Linked DNA regions of Homo sapiens: all the other regions are linked to region 1. Evidence: fine-mapped expression QTL. A gene starts in region 1. Each other region holds a variant in brackets. All regions are shown on one strand. Distances are between the middles of the regions.

What was found. PIP is the estimated chance that this variant, and not a neighbour inherited with it, causes the effect.
Region 2: its variant is the best candidate, but not a certain one, in a credible set for the expression of SLC25A37 in whole blood (INTERVAL, PIP 0.51).
Region 3: its variant is the best candidate, but not a certain one, in a credible set for the expression of SLC25A37 in whole blood (INTERVAL, PIP 0.90).
Region 4: its variant is the best candidate, but not a certain one, in a credible set for the expression of SLC25A37 in fibroblasts (GTEx, PIP 0.60).
Region 5: its variant is the best candidate, but not a certain one, in a credible set for the expression of SLC25A37 in whole blood (INTERVAL, PIP 0.88).

What each region holds. Positions count from the first base shown.
Region 1 is chr8:23,526,797-23,530,912 of GRCh38, reverse strand. SLC25A37 (solute carrier family 25 member 37) reads right to left here and starts at 1,957. Exons shown (of 4, transcript NM_016612.4): 1 at 1,701-1,957. The coding sequence starts at 1,910. RefSeq lists enhancers at 854-923, 2,214-2,263 and silencers at 1,424-1,673, 1,724-2,083.
Region 2 is chr8:23,576,731-23,580,846 of GRCh38, reverse strand. No RefSeq gene overlaps it. Among named protein-coding and RNA genes, the nearest start is that of SLC25A37, 50 kb to the right of the region's middle. The variant C/T (reference allele first, on the strand shown) is at 1,978.
Region 3 is chr8:23,561,279-23,565,394 of GRCh38, reverse strand. The region is part of intron 1 of SLC25A37 (solute carrier family 25 member 37); the gene reads right to left. Among named protein-coding and RNA genes, the nearest start is that of SLC25A37, 34 kb to the right of the region's middle. The variant C/T (reference allele first, on the strand shown) is at 2,282.
Region 4 is chr8:23,555,830-23,559,945 of GRCh38, reverse strand. The region is part of intron 1 of SLC25A37 (solute carrier family 25 member 37); the gene reads right to left. Among named protein-coding and RNA genes, the nearest start is that of SLC25A37, 29 kb to the right of the region's middle. RefSeq lists silencers at 511-570, 881-970. The variant G/A (reference allele first, on the strand shown) is at 1,804.
Region 5 is chr8:23,480,754-23,484,869 of GRCh38, reverse strand. ENTPD4-DT (ENTPD4 divergent transcript) reads right to left here. Exons shown (of 5, transcript NR_186533.1): 3 at 1,630-4,116. It also overlaps the pseudogene LOC646708. Among named protein-coding and RNA genes, the nearest start is that of ENTPD4-DT, 25 kb to the right of the region's middle. RefSeq lists an enhancer at 2,302-3,270. The variant C/G (reference allele first, on the strand shown) is at 1,645.

The DNA.
Region 1 (4,116 bases):
AATTTAAACGTGTGAGAAACGCCTCTTGAGAGTGTCAAAGGGTGCTCAGAAGGCACAACTAATTATTTCTAATCCTAAAAATAAGCTAAAATGATGCTCTAAAGTGAACTCACTGTGGGGTTCCCGAATAGAACATTCATCTCAAGACACCAGTAGGACTAGGGCCTGCTCAGATAACACCTCCCTGCTCCTAACTTTCCCCAGACTCTGCCCAGGGCAGTTGAGACAACAGCTTCAATCATGGAGAATTTTATTACATTTGAGGGATTCTTTCCCATACAAATGCCACCTGGTATCAGTCCAGTGTCTTTCCTGGAGATGAGAACCATTCCTCTAACTCCCCACTGGGACACTGGAGGGACATATGGGTGATGGCTCAGGCTTAGGTCCAGCAGCACCTTGGAAGCCCATGTCTTTCCTCACTGGACTTCTGCCTGTCCAGACACTGACTGCTGGCTCCAAGCGAGCTCCCCGGAGCCGGGAAAACCCTCTGAGTTATACTTTCTGGCCTTCATACCTGCTCATGCAGGACCAGCATCAGCAACAAGATAAAGCTGCTGGGGGTGCCTCTGTGGGACCTGCCTTGCAAAATAATTGCCACCTAGAGAGGCCTCCGAATCCTCCAAAGCACACTGCAGCTGCAGCCAGAGGATAGGAGGTGGTGTAGGAGCCTGGGCAAGGTAATCGGTTCGCCTCTCTGCGCCTCAGTTTCTTCATCTGTTAACCCCCAGGGCTGTTGCATGAATTAGGCGAGTTATGCCTATAAAAGTGCAACGTGTAACAGTCAATACTGGCATTACTTCCTGCACTACTCTATCCTGGCCCTGGGGTGTTCTGGGCAGGCTGACAGAGGGCAGGTCTCAGTCTACCAGGCAAAACGCACCTAGTAACGCTGCCTCTTTACAGAAATGCAGTTAAAACTACCGGGGCAAGTGACAGACAGGGTTTAAAGGAAACTGAGTGCCTCTCACACAATCCACAGCAAGGGCTGTAAGGCACAAGCCCACCCACCTCCCCGCAAGCAAAAGGAGAAGGCAAACGTCATTGCCTCCCGGCGGCTCGGCGACCCAAAGTCGGGGGAAGAAGTGCAGGAACCCTCAGAAAGGGGATCCCACGGGCCGCTGTCGAACCGGTAAAGAGCTGCCACTAGTCGAGAGAAGACTTGCCGGCCCCAAGTTCCCGAAATAACCCGGGGAGCAGCAGCCACACACCAAGTCCCGAGGGCGCGCGGCCGGGCCAGGGCCACACGTTTCTCAGCTCCAGCGTGGTGAGGGCTTCCCCTGCGGGGAGCTCCCTCGGAAACCGCGCACGTGTGGGCGGCCCCAGCCAGCCCGAACGGCCAGCGTGGTAAGACTGTGCAGAGCTTCAGCGATCGCGTCCCCCGGGAGCCCAGTCGCCGCCGAAGCCAGCGGTGCTCGCCACTCCGCCTCCCCCGCCTCAGCGCCGCCAGCAGCCGGGGCCGGGCACGCGGCTGGAGCAGCGGGCGGTGCGGGGCGAGGACCGGGCACCCTCGCGGGGTCGGCGGAAGGCGCGGCGCCCAGGCTGCGCGCAGCTGCTCCTGGGGCGACCCCGGCCAGCCGCGGTCCTGGGGAGAGCTCGGTTTCGGGACGCTGCCCCGAGGCTGCCGGCGCGCGGGATGCAAATGCGCGCGCGCGCTCCTTCTCCGCTCGTTGCGTCCCCGAAGTCTCCCCGCGCCTCACCTTCACCGAGTCCACCGGGTACATGACCGAGTGCTCCAGGATCCCGGCCATCGCTCCTGCTGTCATGTGGGTGGACACGGAGGCGCTAGTCGGCAGGTTCTCGTAGTCCTCCGACCCGGTGGCGTCCTTGCCGCCGCCGCCATCTCGGCTGTCCCCATCCATCCTCCGCGCCACCGCCTGGCTGCCCACGCTCCCGCTGCGCAGCTCCATCCGCCAGCTCGGCGGGGCGCAGGAGGCTGCAGGAGGTGGGCAGGGAGGGGGAGGGGCGCAAAACTTCACTTCTTAAAGTGGGAGCCACCTCCCCGGGGCCGCGGCGCCTGACGCCATGGCGGGCTGGGGTGGAGCGCAGCGGCCAGAGACACCAATCGCCGGGAACCAAGAGGCCGGCGGCCGCCGCGCCATTGGTGTGCGGGACAGTGGGGACCCGCCTCCCTGTGTGACGTCACCGTCCCGTGCACATTTCCAAGCAACCGGACGGGGGCGAGAGGAGACGTGGGGTGGCCCGGAAAGTTGTACTATCTTGAGGATGGGCTGGTCCGCGAGGGGCAGGGGAGGTCATTGGGGAGGGGCCGCAGTGGGGTATGCCCAGAGCTGGAGGCATGGGTGACAGTGTCTCGGGGAAAATCCGTCCCCGTGGCGGGTGGGTTTGCAAACAGAATCGCTCAGTGAGCTTTGGCATTCCTAAGGCCTGAATTCAAACCTCAGGGGCCCGTTCTAGACTGCTTTGTTGGAGAGACCCCCATTCATTCGAAATTGTTTCTCTCAACCTAAATACATAATGCAGAGCTAAATGTGTTCCTCTTGTTCTCACCGAGAGACCGAACCCACCCTGCCCTGGACCGAGCAAGGCTATAAGGAGTGACCAGGAGGGAGCCCCTCTGAGTAGGCACCTCCAGGAAATTTTCTTTGGGTTTGATAGGCCCATAAGGTCTGTAGAGGCCTGATCTCACAGTTAGGAGTGTGAACTGGCTGAGAGTAAAATCTTACAGCCTTGCCCCTGCCTGTCTTAAGACTGTGGTCACCTAGTTCTTAAAGTCGTCCTAAGCTGGCCTCTTCAATAAAGTGTAACCCAGGCTGTTTTAATATTGTTTTGCTCCAGTCTGGGGAAAAAGGGAGAAATCAGAAAGTAGGGGAGGGACCTGTCTGCCTCTGGAAGTGTCCGTCTAAATTGCGTGTTCCAGGGCTTAAGATGACTTGGGCTGATCAACTTGTAGGCACCAGGGCCTCCCTGCCTTATCTAGACAAGGCTTCTCGTCAGGAAAGCTGGATCCTGAGATATGAAAGGGTGGGGAAGACCCTGAAGAGGCTGAGCCTACTCTCTGCCCTCACCGTGATCAGCATCCCAAGCAGCTCTTAGGGATTTGAGATACAGTAATGTGAGCATGGGTAGAGGTCAATAGAGGCGTCAGGACCAAGAGCACTGTTTGCCTAGTTTTGGTAGCTGCAGATAGTAGCTGGCAAGCTGAGTGCTAAGGATGTGATAAGTAAAAACAGGCTCTGTGTTTTTACTTAGCCATCTCTGTAATGGCTAGAGAAAACTCTACTTTTGTCAAAGGTCGTTTTTAAGAAATACTGATCAGAAGCTGTTGATCCTTATTTTTAAGTGGATGCCCTTTAAGCATTAAGTCTGTAAGAACCCACTGCCCCACTTCTGGGAATGTAACAAAAACCCAAATACACAGGAAGCTCTTCTTCAAAGCATTCCTTAGAGCAGTAAATCATTGGAAACAACCTAAATGGTCAACCAGAAGGGAATGGCTAAGGAAATTATGATGTGTGCATAATATTAGTGAAATATTATGCAGCCTTTACAAGTGGAATTTACATTACACGACATGGACGATGATTATAATGTAATGTTAGGTGAAAAAAACAAAACGAAATTCTATAACCATTGCATTCACAAAGATGTAAATGTGCTCAGGAAAAGAATCGCATGGTTACTGTGCTAGTGATGGAGGCTTATAGGCAACTGCTTTGACTTTATTTTTCAGACTTTAAATAATACTTTTATTATTTCTGTAATTTAAAAATAAAAAACCATTCTTTTTAGGAAATATATACCATATTTACACATACATACACACATCTATATATAGAAGTATATATGTATAGAATATAGATATGTGCATATGTATAAGATATATAGATAGGATATAGAATATACACATATGTACATATATAAAATATGTTGATTTGTGTATATAAATATATATAGATATATGTGTATATATAAATGTATTTTTTTACTTAGCCTCTCAGCATTCATATCCATGTGTATATATAAAATATATATACATTTTATGTATAAATATGTACATTTTATATATATAAATTTTATATTTTATGTATGTTTTATATAAATTTTATGTTATATATATTTTATATAAATTTTATATTATATATTTTATATAGA
Region 2 (4,116 bases), 50 kb before region 1:
ATATATATATATATATATGGTTTGGATTTGTGTTCCCACCCAAATATCATGTTAAATTGTAATCCTCAATGTTGGAAGTGGGGCCTGGTGGTAGGTGACTGGATCATAGGGGCAGATTTCCCCTTTGGTGTTGTTCTCATGATAGTGAGCTATCACAAGATCTGGTTGATTAAAAGTGTGTAGTGCCTCCCACCTCGTTCTTTCTTCCACCTGCTCTGGCCATGTAAGACAAGCCTGCTTCCCCTTTACCTTTCGCCACGATTGTAGCTTTCCTGAGGCCTCCCTGGCTATGCTCCCTGTACAGCCTGTGGAACCGTGAGCCAATTAAACCTCCTTTCTTTATAAGTTACCAGTCTCAGGTATTTCTTTATAGCATCAGTGCAAGAATGAACTAATACACACATTATTTATTTCTAAACTTTATGCAGACACAATCAGGGAAAGATTGAGGATGTGCTGGTATATTTCACCAGCTGCTTGCATTAGGCTCAACGTAGAAATCTTGGGATATATATTTATCACCTGTCAATCCAAGCTAAAGGTGTCCATCAAGAGAATATTTTCACTGTTCAGCAGGCAGCAAGAACTCCTTCCACGAACTCACATACTGATGAGGACAAACACCCTTGGTACATATCTCCCTTTGTTCTTTTTAAACTCCCTCTTCCCTTAAAGGCAGCCACCCCAAGGGGCAGCATGACAATAATGAAGAAGCCAGATGTCCACAGTCCCTCTTTCTGCAGCTCTGGGCTTCATGAGGTTGCAGTCGGGTGCCCATTCAACACTGAGAGCACTTCACAACAATAGAAATACACCAGGACTCCAAGGCGACACCCAAGCTTCAACTGCTTCAGGTTGAAGACTAAAACATCACTGGTATGATTTTGATTTATACTTTTTGTCACAGACGAGTTTCTGCTGACAGTGGACAGGGGTTGGGCTGTCTGTCTCTGCTAAAGTGGCCCTTGTGTCCTCTTAGCAGTAGTGCTGGGTGCTCTGCCCAGAGTCTCACTTACTATGGAAAATGAAACATCAAAGCTACCATAGGTAAGTATGAGCATAAGGAAAGAAGAGCTTCTTAAAGAAGCTATGGCAACAGGAACCTGGAAGTCTGGAATTGTGTAATATCCATGGCTTCATAAAAGAGAGGTCACATGTTTACCAAAATAACATTACCTTTAGGAGGCAAGGCCAGAGAAATGGGGAAGCTCAGAAGTATCCTAAATTTGATAAATGTATTGGGAATAAAGATCTTATGGTATGTTGCTGGGGACCGTTAAAGAAATTTCTTTCCTACAAAAATACCAGGACAGCCAGGATTGTCTATAAACCATTTAATTTCTTGATAGATATCGTTTGTTTTCCAGCTTTTCACTTTCATGAACAAGCCTGGGATGTGCAGTTTTGAGTGTTTGTCTAATTATTGCCTTTAGGTAGCCTCTGAAATATTATGCTAGATACAGTAGGAATGGTGCTGGGTGCAGGGGGTCAGGGGAGGGGGAGGTGTGGAAGCAGCTGAACTTGGTGAAGGTGACATTTAAAAGGGAATCCAAAAAGGCAAGAGAGTAAGTGCAGGGAAAAACAAACCGGGAACAAAGAAGACAAGAGCAGGGAGAGACAATGTAGGTTTTTGTTTTTTTTTTTTTAATAGCTTTGGTTGCTTATATTTCACTCCTAAGCTTGTAGAACTGATTACTACCCCTCCTCTGTAAAAGCCTCACCTCTTGGTTACTTCATAACTCTCTGACCACTCCAGCCTCTCCTGGTTCCCATTTCTCTCTTCACTATTAAATGTAAGCCTTCCACGAGATTGTTTTTCTCCCTAGGGACTCTCCTCTGCCCATGGCTTTGGCCACCACATCCCTTGGCCTATATGCCAGGTCCTTTGTTCCAGTTCCAGCCTTTCTCCTGACCACCAATATTGCATTTCCTTCTGGGGGTCTCCACCTGGATGTCCCACAGGAGTTTCAAGCTTAA[C/T]AGGACATCAGAAGTTTGTTACATACAACGAACAATAACTGTCACTCTTATGCAGAATGCGGGAAACAGTAGGCTGGAGGGCTATGGAGAAAACAGGAGTGAATAAACCACAGTCTCTGCCCTCACTGGGCACATAATTCTGGGCAGAAGGCAGCAAAAATGCAAAGTGAGGTCAGCCATGGCAGGTTGGAGGCCTGTCAAAGAGGCTGTAGATACTGACAAAGAGGAAAGAAAGATCACATAGACAGGCAAATTAGGAGGAGCTCCACAATGTGGTAGTAAATGCTATCTTCAAGGCAGCCTGAAAAGGGGACTTGAATGAGCAGAGAGGAGGTGGCAGGAAAGGAAGACATTCCAATGGGAACAAAGTTCTGCAAAGAGCACAGCACCACCCTGTTAAGAAGATTAAGACCTCAGGGTCTTACACAACCATCCTGCTGACCTATTCTGTTTCTCTCTAGTCATTTCCTTACACACGAAGCTAAACTGGGAACTGCCATATGCAGGAAAGCCTATTAAATTCAATCAACAATGAAGAGCCCTTGAAGGTCTTAAGCAACTGAGTAACACGGTAAGCCTCTGGCAGCAAGGGGGGATAGTCTCTTAAGAATGGAGGACAAGTTGAGATCCAAGAGATCTCCAGCAGGCCACTGGACATTGAAATCTGGAGTTCAGGAGAAGAATCGGGGTGCTACAGCCCCATATCTAAGAATCATCTTCCAGAGGAGGGCAGATCAGCACCAAGGGGGTGTGGAGAGACAGGATCCCCAGCGGCAGAACCTTTCCAAGCAGCCATACTTAGGTGGCCCGGAAAGGAGCTGAAGCTGGTGAAGGGCCAGAGAAGGTAGTCATAGAGGTGGGAGGCCAGCAGAAAGCAGGGAAATGGAAGTCAAGTAGGGGAGCTAAAGAGAGAGCCCTCAAGTGTTGTGCATGTTCAAGGAGAAAGACTAGGGAGGGACCCATGGACTTAGAGATGTGGAGTCTATGCCCAGGGAGGAGGAGGACTAAAGACAGACTCATGGACTTGGAGATCAGGCATCTATGCCAAGAAGGAGCAGGACTAAGGAGAAACCCATGGACTTGAGATGAGTTTTCCATGCCCAAAGAAGAGGAGGACTAAGGAGAGACCCATGGACTTGAGATGAGTTTTCCATGCCCAAAGAAGAGGAGGACTAAGGAGAGACCCATGGACTTAGAGATGAGGGATCTTCTCTGCCGCCATGTATTAGTCCTCACCGCCAGGTCTTCCTACTCCTCTCAGACAGCCCAGCCTGTTCTCAGCATGCCCTAGAGTCCTGCGCCCCCAGGCCTCTGTTGACTTCACCTCTACACTCTCATCGATCCAGTCCCACTCATTCTGTTTCAGTCTCCTTCACCTTTCTCTTAGTCATCCCTCTTCTGGACAATTTCACTGTGACATGGAACTGACCATCTCCTGGCCTCCTCCGTATTTCTTCTTCACTTGGTCCTGTACACTTTAGCCAGATGAGTTTCCCTAGAACCAAGCTCCAATCATGGTGTCCCCTGCTCAAATACTCTTCATAAGACTCCCCATTACCTACTGCTTAAAGGTCAAACTTCTTACAATGGCAGTCAAAGCTCTTATGTGCAGCTTACTTACCATGAGGGTGTCTCCTACAAAGCCCTTATGGATGCAAACCAAGCTCTTTTCTCCCAAATTGCTCTTATTTCTCTTAGGCTACTCACTGCATTCAGACTTAGACCAGAGGCAATGCTTTGTTCCCTTGCAAGCAATCATAACCCACCTCCACATCTGCCCAGTTGGCTGTGTCTTTCTCTTGTACAAGACTAGGCTCATTACTTCTTCTCTGAAATGTTTGTCACATTAAGTCCCCTCCTTGGGTAGGAGCAGAGGTCTCTCCTGGAAGAGGTAGCTGATAACTAGAAAACATGCAACTCAGTAAGGAGACCTTGCCCCTAGAGGAAAGGTATACCTTCCTTTCATGGCCTTTTTAGGGCTGGAATTTGAATGTGGTCGTGCTGGAGAGGGCTCTTGAGTGATAGAAAGATGCCTCCATGAGGAGGCAGGTGGCAAACTAAGAGGGGCACCACAGAAGGGCCCCCTAGGTTGACACTGGGTTCTACTTTTCATATTTTCCTCTCAGCAAATCTTCACTG
Region 3 (4,116 bases), 34 kb before region 1:
GTCTCCTTGAAGCAGAGACCTGGCTTTCCCCTCCTCTGTCATCCCTAGGACACCATCCAGGAGGGAAAAGCGCTTGCACAGGTGTGATGGTTAATTTTATGGGTCAGCCTGGATGAGCCACAGTACCCAGATATTTGATCTAACACTAGTTTAGATGTATGTATGAAGGGATTTTCTAAATGAGTTTAACATTTAAATCAGTAGACTCTGAATAAAGTAGATTAACCTGTATACTGTGGGTACATACACCTCATTTAATCAGCTGAAGGCCTCGTGAGAAAAAAACTGGGTCTCTCTCAAGGAAGAAATTCTGCCTCCAGACTGCCTTCAGACTCAAACTGTAACATCAGCTCTCCCTAAATCTCCAGCCTGCAGATTTTGGACTTGGCTAGTCCCCACAATCATGTGGGTCAATCCTCAAAGTAAATCTCTCAATTTCTAAGTAGGTAGGTACGTAGGTAGGTAGATCAGACAGATAGGTAGGTAGGTAGGTAGATTAGATAGGTAGGTAGGTAGACAGACAGACAGACAGAGACAGGTAGGTAGGTAGACAGACAGACAGACAGACAGATATAGATAGAGAACAGGCAGAGAGTTAGACAGATAACCTCTCTATGTAGCCGGATATAGATGTCTCTGTCTCTCCTGGTTTCTGTCTGCTAGGACCCAAGGAAGGTCTTCAACCAAAGGCTGGTCTTACAAACCCAAGTAGACTTTACACATCCTATTACCTGTTTCTCTGGAGAACTCTGACTAGTATATAGGCAAGAAATACTCGCCAAGTAGAAGATCCACCATGGCTCAGTCCCACCAAAGTCACTACATTCCCTCCTTCCTTCTTCCTCCCTTCCTTCTTTCCTGCCTCCCTCCTTTCCTTCCTCCCACCCTTCCCTTCCTCCCTCCCCGACTCCCTCCCTCCCCCACTCCCCCCCAACACACATCCTAGAGGAGAAGCTTTTCAACTTTTGGCAGGGGTATCCTTTTATCTCCAAACAAAATCATAAAAAAAATCTAATCCTACATATAAAAAAGGAGGGCTTCTCTGATTGAAGATGGGCAAAGGACTCTCTGGGGCTCCCTCTCACTCACCGGGACAGAGAGCCCCAGGTACCCCAGGGCTTGGAGGAACGGTGAAAACCAATCACCTGAATTAGTGGTCATTTTCATAGTTCAGATTTCACCAGCTATTAAAACCACAAAGGAAATGGACACACCAAGGCAAACTTTTTATTTTGCCCAGAAAGGACGCAAAAACAATAACAATATAAGCAACAATCACCACTGCCCTCCACCACAAACATGATTTTGTAAAAGAAAGGGCATTTTTAATGCTTAAAAAAAAGTAAGGAAGACTACCTCTGATTATAAAATGGTACTTTAAATTAGATTTAGCTTTATTTTTATTTTTTTCTTTGACACGGAGTCTCACACTGTTGCCCAGGCTGGAGTGCAGTGGCACAATCTCGGCTCGCTGCAACCTCCGCCTGCCACGTTCAAGCGATTCTCCTGCCTCAGCCTCCTGAGTAGCTGGGATTACAGGCGCCCTCCACCACGCCCAGCTAATTTTTTATATTTTTAGTAGAGATTGGGTTTCACTATGTTGGCCAGGCTGGTCTCAAACTCGTGACCTCGAGATCCACTTGCTTCGGCTTCCCAAAGTGCTGGGATTACAGGCGTGAGCCACTGCACCCGGCCAGTTTAGCTTTATTAAAAACTCGCTACTCTGCACCCTTTTTCCTACCACAGACTGGCAAAAACATCTTCTGGCCCAGCCCAAGGCAGCTGCCAAGACACCTGGGCCCCAGGGTCCCAGGGAGGGTAGCCCTGCATCCTTTCGTTTTTTAAAGTGATTTCAATTTTAAGTCTTTTCAAAAAGGATTTGATCTGATTTAATAAGATGATACATTAGGCTAGGTGTGATGGCTCACACCTGTAATCCTGGCGCTTTGGGAGGCCAAGACAGGAGGATTGCTTGAGGCCAGGAGTTTGAGACCAACCTGGGCAATATACTGAGACCTCATTTCAACAAAAAAATAAGAAATTAGCCAGGCATGGCGGCACACCTCTGTAGCCTTGGCTATTTGGGAGGCTGAGGTGGGAGAATCCCTTGAGCCCAGGAGTTTGAGGCTGCAGTGAGCTATGTTTGTGCCACTGCACTCCAGCCTGGGTGACAGAACAAAACCCTGTCTTAAAAAAAATTAAAAATTAAAAAAGGGATATATTATAAGCAAGAAAGACCAAGGGAAGGACGAGAAAGTGAATGTGCCAACCAAGAAGGTAT[C/T]TGAACCAAGAGAATACCCAGGTCATGGTCACAACACCTCATTCAGCTCCCGAGTGGCTGTTGGCCAGACCAAACGAATGAAGATGTACACACCATGCCAAGTGTTCATGCTGGGAAGGAAGAGGCAAAACTCCTCCTTTAGGACATATGAAATCGCTCAAGTTTTAGAGCAAATAAAGCTTCACGTGTCACCTGCCTTCTTCTTATACTTGCCCCTGACAAAAAGCAAGGGTACCAGGTGGTACAATGTGGCTGTCAAGAACCCCAGCTTTGGAATCAGAGAGAACTGGGGCTGAATTCAGATGCCATCACTCATGGTGTGACCCTGGGCAAGGTCATTAAACTTTCTAAGTTTGAGTTTCCCCACTTGAGAGAATGGTTGGGAAAATTAAATGGGATAATATGTGTCTAAAACCATCAATATTGTCAGTAATAACACAAGAGTCCCCTGTCGAGGGGCTACATGACGGTGATTCATGGAGAGGCCAAGTGATAGGGTTCTAGTGTGTGACCTTCCAGGGTTGTGCAGGCCACAGAGGTGGGGTTGTGTTTGTCTTGTTCACAGCAGATCTCCAAGGACCAGTAAGATGATTTATTGGGAACCCAATAAATATTTGTTGAATGAATGAATTGATGAACAAACTAACCCAACTTAGAATACCCACCGGGGTGAAAGGGTACTGTGTCTTGTCTCTTAGCCCACCACCCCTAAATAGGAGCCACACTTTCTTGGACTTAGCTGTGCTTGCCATCACCTTTAATTTGGACCTTTTCACATCAATGCAAAGTTCACGTGTCACCGCATTTCTCAAGCCTGGGTGTGATCTGCAGAACCACATATGGAGCCAAGGCAACCTGTCCCAGGGGGCCTAACATGGGCCTGTGAACAAGAGGTGGCTCCAGGCAGCGCCCTTCAGGGGAGAGGCCCCCACACTTTGGAGAATGGCAGTGTATCTTCTTGGGGATGAGCCCTGGCTGGAGCCCTGAGGTTTCCAGCCAAGGGCAGGGTCCTACCAAGGTTTTGCAAGCCCAGCCTATGGTCAAAGGCCTTCCTTAAGTTCCAGAGCCCCATTGAGCAGGGCTGGCAGTCTGAACAAACACAGAGCATGGAGAACTGGCTACTGAGATCGCACTTTGGACCTGATGCTGGCTCTGGCTACAACCCAGTGACCTTGGTCACGGCATCTCATCTCTCCGGTCCCCAGTGTCCTGGACTGGAAAATGAAAGGGAGGATCAGAGCAGGGGCTGAAGATCAGAGTTACCCGGGAAATGTTTGAAAATACCCATCCATAGACACCACCCTAGCACACACTGATTCAAGTCTTCTTTTTCTTTTTAAAATTCCCCAGATGATTTTGATCAGGACTCAGCTTGGGGAACCACTAAGTGACCATCTAGACCCCTTCCAGCCCCAGCCCTCTGCCTGGGCAGTAGGGAATTACCCCTGGTGACCTATGGAGGGAGTGGCTGAGTGAGGGCAGGGGGCACAGAGAGTGCCCAGGCTGTACAGCCACCCAGCCTGAGGTTGTCAATCTCAATTCCAGCTCTGGGACCTCAAGCAGGTTCCTTAACCTTAGGGCATGGCCATCCTTGGCTGGAATAATCGCCCAGAGAGCTGCTGGGAAACACTTGGCACAGGCTGGCTGTCAATAATGACTGTCCCCATCCCACCCCATGATATACGTGAAGCCATCAAGAGGGTCTCTCCTTTACAAAACTGCTCATGTCAGCCAGTTGGAGGCTGGCATCACACCAAAACTTACAGGGACATTTGGGACTGATTTCTCACCCCCTCCCCTTTTTAAATTAGGGGTAGAGCAGTTGGAGGAAACAC
Region 4 (4,116 bases), 29 kb before region 1:
AAAAACATCTGGGAGTGAGTGGAAGCAACTCAAGTGTCCATCACCAGATGAAGGGATAAACACGATGTAATATATCCATACAGTGGAATATTATTCAGCCTTAAAAAAGGAAAGAAAATTCTGACACAGGCTACAACATAGATAGTTCTTGACAACAGCATGCTAAGTGAAAGGAGCCAGTCACAAAAAGACAAATACTGTATGATTCCACTGATATGAGGTGCCTAGAGTAGTCAAATTTGTAGACAAAAAGTGGAATGGGGGTAGCCAGGGGCTGGGGTGAGGAGGGAACAGGACGGAGAGTTCTTGTTTTATGGGTACAGGAGTTTGAGTTTTGCAAGATGAGGAGAGTTCTGTGGATGCATGACACTGATGGTTGTGTAATAGTATGAATGTACTTAATGCCGCTGGACTGTATGCTTAAAAATGGGTAAGATGAGAAATTTTGTTATGTATATTTTACTACAATTTTTAAAAATACAAGAAAAGGAAGTGAGGGTGGAGAGGAGGAAAAAGGAAATGAATGAATCAGGATGCAGAGACAGGGCAGAGATTAAAAATAAACACACACACGCGCGCGCGCACACACACGCACACACACACACACAACCGGAGACAGAGAATTTCACAAATTTCTTTTCCTGTCCAGGTTTCAGTTCCTGCCCAAGACCTAGCTTCTAGTCTCCTCCTGTTCGGTAAAATCAGTTTCCACGTTTGCATTTTAGTTCTCCCCTCTTGGAAATGCATAAGCACATTACCATACTAAAGCCTCTGGGAAATCCTTCCGGAAAGAAACCTGTTTCACTTGGTTTTCCAAGGCACTTCCTAAACCTCTGTCTTTAGCAATGCAAGCCTTGTCTCATTTAATAACCAGAGACACCTGACCAAACACACGTGTGAAAACACAGCCGTAGCCAATGGGAACCTATGCCCTTGAAGCAGCAAGTGCCAAGAACATCCAGGTGTCAGAGAGAGTCAGAAAGACCCCTCTGGCAACTGTGTGGGGAGCAGGCCGGAGGCAGGTGGTTGTGTGGCTGGCCCCTGGAGGGGAAAGAGGGTGCCAAATAAGCAGCTGAGAGGAGCCCTCACGTGCTGCCTATGAATAAGCATTCCTCCTCTGCACCTGCCTGCAGGATGGAGAAACGTGTCCTGCCCGGGGAATCAAGAGACAAGGGTCTCTGGCCTGACACTGCCACTCCCAGTGTGACCTGAGCAAGTCCCCTCCAGCTCCAGATCTGCTCCAGGACAGTGAAACTCCCAGTGATATGAACTCTGTCTGTATCTGCATCCACTGTCTCCACAAACTCCTAGCAAAGCTAGAACAAAGTGAAGGGTCAGCCCCTGACACCAATTCTCCCCTAAGATGACAAAACAGGAAAGGCCTGTCTCACTGGCCCGTTCTCTCACTGCGGGGAGGAGGGAGAGTGGAAAATGCACGTTCTGTCCCAGGTGAGCTGGCGGGATCATGTAACAGAAGCAACAATGGCCCTAGGGAGACCACATCCAGCCCAGCCCCTGCCTTTTCAGATGGGAAACTGAGGCCCAAGAAGGAAAATGACTTGTCCAAGATCCTGTGGGTAAGGAGCCTCTGATCCAGGCCTAGGACCAAAAAAGAAAAGAGAAGGGGGCAAGCTGAGCCTGGTAGTGGGCCTCAGGCCCTTCTAGGGGTCCTGCAGAGGTCATGCCACCCAAGCCAGCCATCTGTAGCATCAGAAACTCAGCCACTGACTCCCTGCCTGACCTGGAGACAGCCTGTAACTCCCACCTCTCCAATCTCTCAAAAATAAAAAACTTTCCATGTTC[G/A]AAGTTCACGTGGCATTTCTAGGACTGAGGAGACGATCATGTGAAATCTACTCACTGGCTCATTCTAAAGCATTTGCCTTACACCTACCTTGAGCCAGGTGCAATGGGGATACAAACAGGAAACAAACAAGCACTGTGATACCATGAGCAGCACAACTCCAGGGGGGCCCAGGGCTGAGCCCTAGAGGCTGCTCCGCACCGTCTCTGTTCCAGACTTTCTCCCAGAGAAAGGAAATAAGGCTCGGGCACCTCGAAAGTTTAGGATAAATGCCAAATGTTAGCCTCTGCTGCCCAATGTCTGCTTCAGAATTCAAAATCAAACCAGTGTTTTCTCTTGTCTGTCAACTGTCCCCAGCTAGCACTGACATTCACTAAATAAACCACAGTAAAATGCGGGGCCAAGCCCAGCCCCCTCCCTGTTTTCCAAGCCTCACCCTGCAGCCCCCTGGCCAGCAGCTCTCCCATGTCCACCATGAGCCCATCCAGAGCTCTATGCTCCTGCTTCACTGGGGTCTGCTGAGGACACTCTCAAGACACCAAGAAGCCAACTCCCATCCACAATTGTCCAGAAAGGATCAGACCAAGGAGCTGGTTCCTGCAGAGCCCTCCCTCACTGAAACTCCACGCCACAAATCACAGCAGGAGGCCCAGGAGGAAAAGCATTTGGCACCACGCTTTATGGAAAGGACTGTCTTCCTAAGTAAAGCCACAAACCCCATCTAGGCCTTGGAAAGCCCTGTCTCACCTTCCAGCATCCTTAGAAGGCACACACTACAAATGCAGAAACCCAGACCACATCAAGGAGCACCACGCACACAAAAACCGTTGGCACTACCCGTCCAAAACCACCCGTTCCCCGTCCAAAACCACCAGCCTTCCTCACTCAAACCTGCTCCCTTCCTAGGCTCCTTGGCAGAAGAGGGACTCTTAACAGGGCTTTGGATAGTCCCACCCTGGCCCTTTGAAAAGCCATGTAAAAATCATGCAAAATTGGCCAAGTGTGGCGGCTCACACCTGTAATCCCAGCACTTTGGGAGGCCGAGGCGGGCAGATTACCTGAGGTCAGGGGTTCGAGACCAGCCTGGCCAACATGGCAAAATCCCATCTCTACTAAAAATATAAAAATTAGCCAGGTGTAGTGGCACACGCCTGTAATCCCAGCTACTCAGGAGGCTGAGGCAGGAGAGTCGCTCGAACTCAGGAGGTGGAGGTTGCAGTGAGCCAAGATCGCACCATTGCACTCCAGCCTGGGTGACAGAGCGAGAATCTGTCTCAAAAAAAAATCACGCAAAATAAGCAGGAGGACATCACTCAGCATCATTCCCACACGTCGCAGGCAAGAGCAGAGCAGCACAAATAATCCTTTAACTGCAGCTCTCAGAGTATAACTAACTTTATCCCTAAGTTGAAGTTTCCAAATCGTGTCTTTTTCTAACATCTCCCAAACTGGCAAAAATAAATACACAAAGAGAATATACATATAATACATATACATACACACACACACATATATACACACATATATACATATACACACATATATATACACATGCATATATACATATGTATATACATACATATACATATATGTATGTTTTTAATGAAAAGGAAAATTTGAGCTGGGTGCAGTGGCTCACACCTGTAATCCCAGCACTTTGGAAGGCCAAGGCAGGTGGATCACTTGCTGCCAGGAATTCAAGCCCAGTCTGGACAACATAGCAAGACCCCATCTCTTCAGAAAGTAATTTTTTAAAAAAATTAGCCAGGCATGGTGGGTGCCAGTGGTCTTAGCTACTTGGGAGGCTAAGGTGAGAGGATCACTTGAGCCCAGGAGACTGAGGCTGCAGTGAGCTATGATCATGTCACCGCACTTCAGCCTGAGAAAGACTCTGTTGCAAAAAAAAAAAAAAAATTGGTGCTCTTAATGTTTTGAAACCAGCAACAGAAAAATGATTCCCCTAAAAGTAGTCATTGCCCCCACTTCAAAAAAGTGGGGGATGGGGTGGGAAAACAAATGCCTATCAGAATACATGGCGGGGGACTCAAGCAGAGTTAGAAGAACATACATTCTGAAAAAAGCTTCCTGCTCATCTGAAAAGTCTCTGGTGAAAACTACCATTTTGGAACAAGCAAAGAGCCCAACCAGCTTGCTAGAAAGTCAGCCAGAAAAGCTATACCAAGACAAAATGAAGAGTTGAGACCTGGTGGAAAACACTTCAACTAAATCAGGTCTACGTGGCTTTCCCTGCCTCACCTACAGGAAGGCCTAGACTTCCTTCAGCGTTCAGGTCACCCTGATGTTGGAGGGGGGAG
Region 5 (4,116 bases), 46 kb after region 1:
CTGGGGGATCATCTGAGGTCAGGAGTTCGAGACCAGCCTGACCAACATGGAGAAACCCCATCTCTACTAAAAATACAAAATTAGCTGGGCATGGTGGCGCATGCCTGTAATTCCAGCTACTCAGGAAGGCTGAGGCAGGAGAATTGCTTGAACCCGGGAGGTGGAGGTTGTGGTGAGCCAAGATCGCACCACTGTAATCTAGCCTGGGCAACAAGAGCAAATCTCAGTCTCAAAAAAACAAAAAACAAAAAACAAAAACAAGCAAACAAAAATTAGCCAGGCATGGTGGCGCATGCCAGTAATCCCAGCTACTCAGGAGGCTGAGGCAGGAGAATTGCTTGAACCCAGGAGGCAGAAGTTGCAATAAGCCGAGATCGCGATCGCACCACTGCATTCCAGCCTGGGGAAAAAAAAAAAAAAGTCATGTCCACCTTAAATAATGGGCTGGTTCCTGCAGGAGGAGAAGACAGCATTACAGGCTAGAGTTCAAGTGGAGGGTTAAGACATCAAGACAGGGTTAAGAGCAAGGACTTGGAGCTAGTCAGTTAGATCTGCCAGTAACTGTCAATGTGATCTGGAGGAAATCAATTTATCTCTAAATCTCAGCTTTCTCCTCCGTAAAATGAGGAGAACTGTGCATGTCTCATAAGGTGTGTACATACTGAACGTTGTGAAGATTCTCAGAAATGCTCTGTGTAACATGATTGGCCTGTCATAAGAACTCAGGAAGCTATTATCACCCATCACCATCATCATTACCAAAAAAACTGCTGACAGAAGCATTCACAGGAAGGGAATAGGAGAAGGTGGTAATGAACCTGACAGGGGACTTTTGTGGCTGGAGCAGGCTGGGGAAGAAAGTGCTGAGAGAAGGCCACTCCCTATCTTCCTGAAGATCTCCAGCAACCCTAGGAGAGACCCACATCCTGAGCTGAGCTTTCAAGGGCCCAGGCTGCATCTGGCTGGAGGGAGTTTGTTTTATGTGACAACTCGGAACGAGGGAGCCTCTACTCTGGGGGTAGGGCCTTGAGGCCCTTGAATAAGGACAGCAGTTTATCAGTCCTGTCTCCACCCAACCCCAGGAAGAGAGAAACTCAACTCATCAATCTCCCTTCCATAGAGTAGGTATTTTTTTATTTTAAAATAATTGCGGCGTCTCCGCTGCCGCTGCCGCTGTGAGCGCTGCACCGGCGCCCTCTGCCATTGCCGCTGCGGCCGCCACCCAGGGTCTCCAGGCTGAGGACTGCGTTGGCCACTGCCCAGCAGCGTCGCAGAGCGGGGAGCAGGAGCCATGGAGCCGGCGGGAGGGCGGGCGGATGGGCAGATTAGCCTAACAGGGCAGACCAGAGACAGCGTTCACTGTCTACCTCTGGGGAATCATTGTGCCACAGTCTTGGGCTGGACAAGAACGCAACCTCAGATGACATTAAAAAGTCCTATCGGAAACTTGCGTTGAAATATCACTTCGACAAGAACCCTGACAACCTGGAGGCCGCAGACAAGTTTAAGGAGATCAACAAGGCCCAAGCCATCCTGACGGACACCACATAAAGGAACATCTATGACAACTACGGCTCGCTGGGGCTCTACCTGGCCGAACAGTTTGGGGAAGAGAACGTGAACACCTACCTCGTGCTGTCCAGC[C/G]GGGGGGGCCAAGGCCCTGTTTGTCTTCTGCAGCCTCCTCACCTGCTGCTACTGCTGCTGCTGTCTGTGGTGCTGCTTCAACCGCTGCTGTGCTGCGGGAAGTGTAAGCTCAAGGCCCCTGAGGGCGAGGAGACAGAGTTCTACGTGTCCCCCAAGGCTGCAGTCTGACGAGAGGGAGGCCGCAGACACACCGATCATCATACAGCCGATGATGGGGCTAGGGGCCAAGTCCTCCTGGCGTCACTGGCATCGCTGTCATTCCTTGGTGTCTGTGCTAGGCACAGTTGGCTTGGGGTCTGTGGTTTCCTGGGCCTTGTGGCAGGGTTTCTCCCGTGGGGGAATTTGGTGTGGAAAGCATAGGAGGCCCCTTCCGAGGTTGACACCGTGTCCTCCGCACAGTGTTTCTATCCTGGGTCTCCTTGTCACGTGGACTCTGCGGCTCCAGTCCTTGGAGGTGTGTCCTTCGCCCACATTGGGGTCGTTTGTCTGTCTTCCTGCACTTTTCCCGGCTGTGAACTGGATTGATGGGGCCAGTCTCCTCCTCCCCTGTCCTGGGGTCATTCTCCACATTCCTTCCAGCCCACCTGTCCTTTCCGTAGCCCTCTTTGGACCTTTACAACCACAGATGGTAGCACCAGCCTGATGAGCCACAGTCAGGAGAGTAGATCGTCCATGTGTAAGCATCTAGCCGCTGGGGACGGGGGCTCTTCCAAGACCCTCCTCCCGTGTTTGCCAGAGCTCCCATCTGCTCCAGTTGCCTTTGCCCTGTCATCGATGATTCAGGCAGAGCCAGATTCGTTATGTCCCTGGAGGAAGGACTGACTGGACCAGAGTGACCCCTCTGGCTCAGAAGGGTTGGGTCCCTGGGAGGCCAGCAGCCAGACCACGGAATCCACGTGTGGACCATTGGAAGTCAGTCTTTTGTCTGTCCTAGACCTTGTTGGTGGCGCCCTGGGTAGAGGAGTGGGGGAAACGGGTCTGATGTCCCTGTGCTGGCCGAGGGCTCAGAGCTGCCCCCACTCTGTGGCTCACGGGATATGCTGGGCCTGCCTTTGGCCCCATGCTGCAGACTCAGTGGGCCTGGCTTCTGCAGAACATCCATGGTGGCCGCTGCAGAGTTCTCAGCAGAGATGAAGCTGAGGAAGAGGCTGTGTGTGGTGGCTCTGGCTGGGACCAACCAGATGAGTCTCCTGAGGCCCTTTTTCCCGGCCTGCCTGCTGACTCATGGCCCCAGCTCACTCATGGCCCTCAGCGGCCCACCCAAGGCTGTGCAGAGGGGTGGGTTGAGGTTGACCAGGAAGTTGCCAGAAGGGACATGGGTGAGGACAAATCTGGACGTGCTTAGGAGCGGGGTGCTGGTTGAGGGCCCCCAGCTGACCCCTATTGCGGATCCCCATGTGGGTGATGAGCTGGCTGCCAGCACCAAGTCCTGGGGCAGTTTTGTTTGTCTCACTTTTCTTTGGTTTTTCTCCCTAAAATGATCATGAAGACCTTTGATGAGAGGAGAGCTATGCACTGTGATATTAAATTAGAAATAATTTGTCAAAATCAGACCTCTCCTAAAAGAATAAGAAATTCATTGTTTGGCCCATCCTGAAATGCGAGGCAGCGAGACGTTGGGGTGCCTCCGTGCCGTTCAACACAGCAGCAAGTTCAGCCTCAAATGCTGGCTGTACTCAGCCTTTGCAATTTTTGCAGATGTAGCTTAGGAAGTGAGTTATTTTTCCCCAGACTGGCCAAGAGCCAGGTTCTAAGCTTGGACCTAAAGTAGAAAGCCACCTGTCAGGGGGCCTGGCTCAGCCCCACCAGGCCCTCTGTTGTGCCTGCACACAGCTCTGTGGCTAGAACACTCCAAGGCCCTTTGGTACCCATCAAAGTGGGCCCCTTGCCAGGTGGCTTTTCAGTTACAGAGTCCAATGGACCATTTTTTAGAACCATGCAGCTCCCCGCAAAGGGTGGGGTAGGGTGGGAAAGAGGAGCAGGTCTGGAGGTTTGTGGAACCCAGTTCCTACAGAATTTGTAAAACCTAAATAAATCATGGCCATGAAAATTCTCACAGTGGTGATTGTGATTATAAGACACCTAGGAAGCCCAGACACTCGGGGCCTGGAGTTCCTCCCACTGCCTGACCTGGAAGCAAAACTGTTTCCGGTGTTCTGCCCTTTAGGTTTTAAGGCCTTGTCTTAATTCAGGAAAAAGAACTTCCCAGGTTTTCTCTTTTTCTTGAGTGGACTGTTTCCCTATTAATTAAAAGAGGTGGTGAGTCCCCGGGGGCAGCTTACGCGCCTCCTTGTCCACATGCTAACAGATCAGAATGCCCCCAGCACCCCTGCCTGCTGGTGGCAGTGACAGGACCCTGACTCCTCACTCTTGGGCTGCGGATGATGCTTGTGAGCCACTGTGGCCATGGGCACAGAACGTCCCATTGGACGCTGCTGCTGGGTGCTGCCAGGGGCCTGCTGGGGTCGTCGT